Linked DNA regions of Homo sapiens. The protein of the gene in region 2 purifies or fractionates together with the protein of the main gene of each other region. This does not show direct contact. Each region holds a gene or a part of one and is shown on either strand. Other genes may lie near its edges. The genes, in order: UNC5B and ALG6.

The links.
Region 1: the proteins of ALG6 (region 2) and UNC5B fractionate together in Homo sapiens (co-fractionation; one large-scale study listed by BioGRID). This does not show direct contact.

The regions. Positions count from the first base shown.
Region 1 is NC_000010.11:71,215,423-71,219,236, reverse strand, and holds part of UNC5B (netrin receptor UNC5B isoform 1 precursor), read right to left. Parts: intron 2,014-3,814; exon of another isoform or gene 1,602-2,013; intron 1,244-1,601; exon of another isoform or gene 1,009-1,243; intron 1-1,008. UniProt on the Homo sapiens protein: Receptor for netrin required for axon guidance. Mediates axon repulsion of neuronal growth cones in the developing nervous system upon ligand binding.
Region 2 is NC_000001.11:63,426,434-63,430,247, forward strand, and holds part of ALG6 (dolichyl pyrophosphate Man9GlcNAc2 alpha-1,3-glucosyltransferase), read left to right. Parts: intron 1-2,299; coding exon 2,300-2,368; intron 2,369-2,494; coding exon 2,495-2,693; intron 2,694-3,814.

The DNA.
Region 1 (3,814 bases), on a different chromosome or scaffold from region 2:
CCCAGTCCTGTCTCTTCAGCCTTCTAAGTGAGAGCTTCCACCTTCTCGGTGAGTTCTTACAAGGACAAAGTGAGACTGCACATATAAAAGGGTTTTGTAAACTGTAAAGCAACATGCACACCAGGGTGGGGCGAGGGACTGTGATTTTCCTATAGGCCTCCCTGCTCCAGAACAGTCCATCTTATCCTAGAGTTGAAGTGATGGAAGTCCTTCCTGTGGACAGCCCTGGGAAAGCAGGTAAGCGCTTCTGTGACCAAGAAAGTTGTAACGACAGTGGAGTCCAGCATGTGTGTGGGTGTGTCTGTCCTCTTTAAATTGCTACCGCTGAGAGTCCCAGGCCCCAGCCACGTCAGCCTGAGATGGGGTTCTCCACTGGGGATCCCACCCACTCAAGCTCTGCTGGCCCCTTCTCCAGCAAACTCTAGAGGAGAACTCACTCCCTTTGGGGGAGACAGGCTGAAGCATAAGCTGACCCAGGTCAGAGAGCAGATCTCCAAACCACAGCCGCTCCCATGCTCTGGGGAAGCTGGGAGTTGACTGCAGAAGACTCCAGGTCTGGGACTCTGATCTTCCTGGGGGCAGTAGCCCAAGCTGCTGGGCTGGCTTAGGGTCCATCTCTGCCAACCTTCCTCCCCCTGGAGCACCAGGACCCACCTGCAGGCAGGCCTATCCCATCTGCACTCAGCAGGGGAAGCTGTCCTCTGCCCTTCCAACAGCAGAACCTGGCACTCAGGCCAAACCCTGCTCACAGTGCAGGTGTGGGGCAAAATGAGGTCTCTTAAGTGCTGATGGGCAAATGGCCTGGGTCCCATCCTGAAGTGGAATCCCCAACGGAATACAATGGATGGAGCTTCCCATGCCTGGTGGTGACTCACTGTCTCCACATTACACATACCTATTTATACACAAACACACCACAAGTGTGCCCATGTGACATTGCCCACCCCACACACACCCAAACACAGACACAGCCTATACATCACACCTCCTGAGTTACAAAAGGCACAACCCTCCTCAAACACACATCCATCCTCCGGCACACACCCAGTCCATGCCTCGCCCCCACACACACCTGACACCCCAGTGCAACACCACACCCACCCTCCCCTCCCTGCAAACTCCCACCTCCGCCCACCTGCTTAATACACATTCTCACCCCCCACACACTCCTTAATACATACTCTCACACCCACAAGCCTGCCTTCTTGGAGAAGTGAGCCGAGCCGTGCAGCGCCGCGAAGGGGTAAGTTGCAAGCACTGGGGGCAGCCTGTTCTGGGAGGTGAGAAGGAGGGCGGCTCCGTGCACTCACTCGCTAGGCGGTGGCGTTAGAGCTCCCGGGGCTCCGCAGACCGATTTAGCTCGGCTGGGGAGGGAGGTGGAGATGGGGACTGGGGGTGGGGGACGCAGGAGAGGGTAGAATCCAGCCCCACAAGCGGCGGCGATGCTAATCAGGCCGCTAAGATGGAAAAGGTAAATTCTGGCGCCCAGCAGCCCAGCGCTTTTGGAGAGAAGGAAGAGGAAACAAAAGGGGTGGGGGTGGGGGAGCGGGGAGGCGGCTGATTTATGCCTGCACTTCAGCAAATATTTTCGCTGCCATTAGCATCCCCGAAGACCGGGAGGAACGCCGCGGGGACCTGTGGCTTAGCGCGCTCCGCCCGGGCTTGTCTGCCCGCGGGGGCGCAGCGGCTGAGGCGGCTCCGGGCCGGAGTTCCAATCAAGCGCCACCCAACTCCCAGTCGGGGGCCGAGGCCAGCGCCGGGATGCCAGCTTCCCCCAAAAAGATCCTGCCTCAGGGAAATGCATGGAGCCGGCGGAAAAGCCCGCGGCGCCCCCGGCGGATCGCAGACCCTAAGGGGGCGGGAGGTGGCGCCCCAGTCCCAACCTCTTGAGCCAACCCAGTGGGTGGGAAGTGCCCTTACCCTAGGCCTTCCGCAAAGTGTTCTCTCCTTGTATTATTCTAATTACGGTATTTTTAATTTCCTTAAAAAAATAAGAAACAGAAAAGCACAGAACGCACTTGTTTGGTTTCATTTTGCCTTCACAGCTTTAATGACTCTATTTGTGGAAGCTGTTTAGGAAACTGGTGAGGAGGAGAAGGAGGAGGACGCCAAGAGAAGCGCCAGCTCTGGCCTGAGCGCCGGCTTTCTCCTCCCTACCCTCTGGGGGCCATCTGCCCAGGCAGCAGTTTCCCTGGGCCCAGGCTCCCACCCCCAAGTCCCAGCCTATGACCCAGCCCCCTCTGCCCTTTCCTGAAGGCGGCAGTGGCCTCCAAACTGTCTCCTTTCCACCCAACCCCAACTCTGAGGGTCAAAAGACGGGCTGCCTGCAGGCCCTGGGGGAGGGAGGTACCAGCACTGTCTATTCAGAATCACTAACCTGGTCCGAGAGCACTTGGAATGGAAATGATCCATCTCCCCCCAGCCCATCCCCAAAGTCTTAGGCAGCCCACAAACCTCCTTAGAAAACCTCTGTGGCTCAGGGAATGGGGCGTAGGAGGCAGACCTCGTCTTAAGCCTGACACCCAGGAAAAGGGTCACTAGACCTGCGGTCCAGGAGAAACTCAACAACAAAGGTGGGGGAGGGCACTGGCTCCTAAAGCTTTGAATATAAGTAAAAAGTAAAAACATATTCTGTCCCCAACTCTACAAATGGGTGCAGAGCTATAAAATGCTAATGTTTATTTGGCCATGCAGCCCAAGGGAGCTTGGCTTGTGACCTGTCTCCCTTCCCCAGGTCAGGGCAGTTGCTCAGGAGGCCAATGCTGGGGGTTGGGGGAGCCACCTTTGGGCACTTGCCTGGTCTCAGAGCTTCACTCCTGACCTTTGGCTCTGCCCTGTTCCCCCTCTCCTGGAACACCTCTTCACCCTTCCAACTCTCAACCTCTTTCCTCCATCCTGCCATGAGTTCCAGTCTAAAGCAGCCATCAAAGCGATCTTATCTTTAGCTGCCTGCCTTAAGTGGTGCCTCAATTTCAGAGTCTCAAGCCCACACCCATGATGGTGGGTCTCCAGCCCAGATGGAATGAAGGAGCTAGAAGCACTAGATTGAGGTTGTGAGGCCTCAGTTCAAGTCCTGGCGCTACCGGTGAGTCCCAGTGTGACCTTGGGCAAGTTGGCCTGTCCCAAAGTGTCAACAGTTAAATAAATGGATTGGAAAAGAGGGGAACTGTTTTATCCTACAGAATTCCCTGTTTGTGGGGGAGGGGAGAGAGGTGGAGGAGAGAGATTACAGGAGAAATTCCTCCCCTGCAGTGGTACTTTCACTTTAATGAGAAAACCCATTAAGACACTTGATTTTCCATTTGTTTAAGTGAGATGGGTGTTTGCTACAGTGAGTGCAGAGGGAGACAAGGACAGGCTATCATTGTGTGTGCACAGGCGCATGCACGCGAGCACACACACACACACACACACACACACACACACACACCAAGCAGAGACACTACAAAAACTCTGATTTTAATTGCACCTTAAAAAGAAGTATTATCTTGACACCTCGACTCCTTCTCAACCATCCCAGCCAGAGGCCATGGAAAGGCTCATTAAAAGCTCCAGGAAGGGCTGAAAGGTGGGGTGGGAGGAGATTTCCAGGGCCAACCAGAGCTTTTGAAGTGGCCTTTTCTGGCTAGTCACTTGCTGACATTACCTTCTAAGGGTCTGGGGTTTTATGGTTCCAGTTTTGATTTCTCCAGCATCAGACTTTACAGCTTAAAAATATTCTCAGTGCTGTAAAGGGAGCTCATTCCCATATTCACCAGGGATGGGGTGGGGTGGGGAAAAGGAGAGAGAGGTGCCTGCCACTTGAGGGGAGCTT
Region 2 (3,814 bases):
AGAGGTTGAGGATGTAGGGCATTTCACTGTTTGGTGATGAATTGTAAGTACTTTGAGGTTAGGAGCTGAGTTATAATCATCTTTGTATTCCTTTCAGAGCAGTGCTTATATGTAGTAAGTTTTTTTAAGAGACAAGGTCTCACTTAGTCACCCAGGCTGGAGCAAAGTGACATGGTCATAGCTCACTGCAGCCTCGGACTCCTGGGCTCAAGTGAGCCTCCCACTTCAGCCTCCCAAGTAACAAGTACCCCAGGCGTGCGTCACCATGCCAGGCTAATTTGTAAATTTTTTGTGGAGGTGGTGTCTTGCTATATTCTCTAGGCTGGTCTTGAATTCCTGGGCTCAAGTGATCCTCCCACCTTGGCCTCCAAAAGTGCCAGGATTACAGTTGTGAGCCCCTGCGCCGGCTGTAATACATTTTTTGTCAATGCTTGTGTTTGGTAAATAAATATTGAATGCATAAATGGGAAAGAATTAAACCAGAAAGAGAAAACAGTATTTATTGAGCACCTTCAATGAGCTTGCTATTAATATGCGTCCATTCTCAAGCAGTGAAATGGAAAGTCCTCTAGTAATTTCTTTCTTTGAGATGGAGTCTTGCTCTGTCACCAGGCTGGAGTGCAGTGGCACGATCTCGGCTCACTGCAACCTCCGACTCCCTGGTTCAAGCAATTCTCCTGCCTCAGCCTCCTGAGTAGCTGGGATTACAGGCACGCACCACCGTGTCCAGCTAATTTTTTTTTTTTTTTTTTTGTATTTTTAGTAGAGACGGGGTTTCACCATGTTGGCCAGGATGGTCTTGAACTCCTGACCTCGTGATCCGCCTGTCTCAGCCTCCCAAAGTGCTGCGATTACAGGTGTGAGCCACTGCGCCCGGCCTAGTAATTTCTTTTAGTAGTTTTCAGTTTATAATCCCAGGGTTTAAATCTCATATATTAGTTGACATAGGAAAAAGTCATCCTTCTGGGAAAGGGGGAGAATGCCCAAATCTTTATAGAGCACTTTTTAAAATAAAGAGATTCAAAATAATGATAACAATTATTCAACAACCACCATCATTAGGAAAGTTTATTGTATTTTAAAAAAGTAAACACTAGATGATACCTGCAAAGAGTTCTTTCAACTATTTAAGAATACAGGGTATTATTATTATTTCCATTTCCACTTAAGAAAATAGATTAATCATTTGCTCAAGGTCACACAGTAAATAAAGGGCAAACATGGGGACCAGGACTCAGGGCTTCACACTAGCAATGCTCCTTCTTTGAGCATTGCCACAATTGAATCCCAAAGGTACTGGAGCAGGAGTTGTGGTAAGGAGGTTACAGGGCTTAGAGCTATGACCCTAAACAACTTTTTTTTTTTTTTTTTTTTTTTGGAGATGGAGTCTCGCCCTGTCATCTCACTCTGTTGCCCAGGCTGGAGTGCAGTGGTGTGATCTCAGCTCACTGCAACCTCCTCCTCCCGGGTTCAAGCAGTTCTCCTGCTTCAGCCTCCCAAGTAGCTGGGATTACAGGCACGCACCACCAAGCCCAGCTAATTTTTTTTGTATTTTTAGTAGCGATGGGGTTTCACCATGTTGGCCAGGCTGGTCTCGAACTCCTGACCTCAAGTGATCTACCAGCCTTGGCCTACCAAAGTACTGGGATTACAGGCCTGAGCCACTGTGCCTGGCCCCTAAACAATTCTTTGATAAAGCCAGTGGTTCTGTTTATTGGCATTGTGCTTCCTGTTCCTATACTATTTCCCTTTTTATGTAGCTCTTCCTACTAATTTCTTCCTCCTTTTAATTTTATTATTATCAATTTGTTTTCCTTTATCCTCTTGTCTCTCTTGTCCTCTCCAGTGGCATGATGATGTTGTCTGCCATATCTTTAGTTTTAACTTAGCGGAGTAATATGTAACATGAAAGAACATAAAAGAGATGTTTGAAAACAATACTGGGAATTCATATTTACCAAGTACTACGAAATATGTGACAAAGCCTTCTCAGATTTGTTTATCTGATCCTTTTCTTAAGCTACTTGTTTGTATGATAGAGAAAAAAAGTTCCATTAACGGCATACTGGAAGCAGCAGTTTTCCAATTATTATGAGGAGTTGACACCTCTGTGCCTGTGTCTAGGCTAATTTAGTCTGGACTGTTAACAAAATGAATCAGTAGTCCATATGAAGACCTTCCTGGCTGTTTTTAAGCTACCGCTGAAAATCAGACAGATAAAATGTATTTATATTTTTTACAATTAGGAGTTGAAGTTATATTCTGTAATATTAAAATATTTTTTTCTTTACGATTTTAGACCAGTCTGCTTAGTTTTAAGTGAAATTCCTTTTATGTCTACTTGGTTTTTACTTGTGTCAACATTTAGGTAAGTCATATCAATTTCCATATATTTTCAGTATAATTCTTGTAAACTAATTTAAAACTTTTTTATGAAGTGGTTATGGTTTGAATTGATAATTCTCTTGTGATTTTTAAAAATTTTCCTTTACAGTATGCTACCTCTTCTATTGAAGGATGAACTCCTAATGCCCTCTGTTGTGACAACAATGGCATTTTTTATAGCTTGTGTAACTTCCTTTTCAATATTTGAAAAGACTTCTGAAGAAGAACTGCAGTTGAAATCCTTTTCCATTTCTGTGAGGAAATATCTTCCATGTTTTACATTTCTTTCCAGAATTATACAATATTTGGTAAGTTCAATTTTTAAGAAATGACACATTTTTCAGCATGTCACTATTTTAAAAAATTATTGAAGTAGTGATTTTCTTTTATACCTTTTTGAGATATAATTCACATAAATCCACTCATTTAAAGTATACAACTTAGTGGTTTTAAGTATGTAAACAGATTTGCACAACTATCACCATCATCTAATTTTACATTATTTTGTCACTCCCAGAAGAAATTCTGTACCCATTAGCATTCATTCCCAATTCTATTCTCACTCCTAACTCCCTTCCTTGGACAGCCAGTTTCTGCCTCTTTAGATTTGCCTACTTTGGACATTGCATATAAATGGAATGTATTAGTCTGTGATAGCTGCCATAACAAAATACAACAGAAATTTATTTTCTTACAGTTCTAGAGACTAAAAGTTCAAGATCAAGATCAAGGTTCTACCATCAGGGTTGGTTTCTGGTGAGGCCTCTCTTCCTGGCTTGTAGAAGGTCTCTGCTTTATGTGTCACACATGGAGAGAGACCTCTGTTGTCTCTTCCTTTTCTTGTAAGGACACCAGTACTACTGGATTAGGGCCCCATTCTTATCATCTAATTTAACCTTATTTACCTCCTAAAAGGCTATATCTCCAAATAACAGTCACATTGGGGGTTAGGGCTTCAACATATGAATTTTAATTCAGTCCATAACATGGGATAATAAAATTGTGGTCTTTATGACTCGGTTCTTTCACTTAGTGTGTGTGTGTGTGTGTGTGTGTGTGTGTGTGTATTTATTTATTTTTTTGAGACAGAGTCTTGCTCTGTCACTCAGGCTAGAGTGCAGTGGCATGATCTTGTCTCACTGCAACCTCTGCCTCCTGGATTCAAGCAATTCTCCTGCCTCAGCCTCCCTAGTAGCTGGAACTACAGGCATGCGCCACCATGCCCAGCTAAATTTTGTATTTTTAGTAGAGATGGGATTTCAGTATGTCGGCCAAGCTGTTCTTGAACTCCTGACCTCATGATCTGCCGGCCTTGGCCTCCCAAAGTGCTGGGATTACAGGCATGAGCCACTGCGCCCAGTCACTTAGCATATTTTTGAGGTTCATTTGTTATAGCATATATCAGTACTTTATTCCTTTTTATTACCAA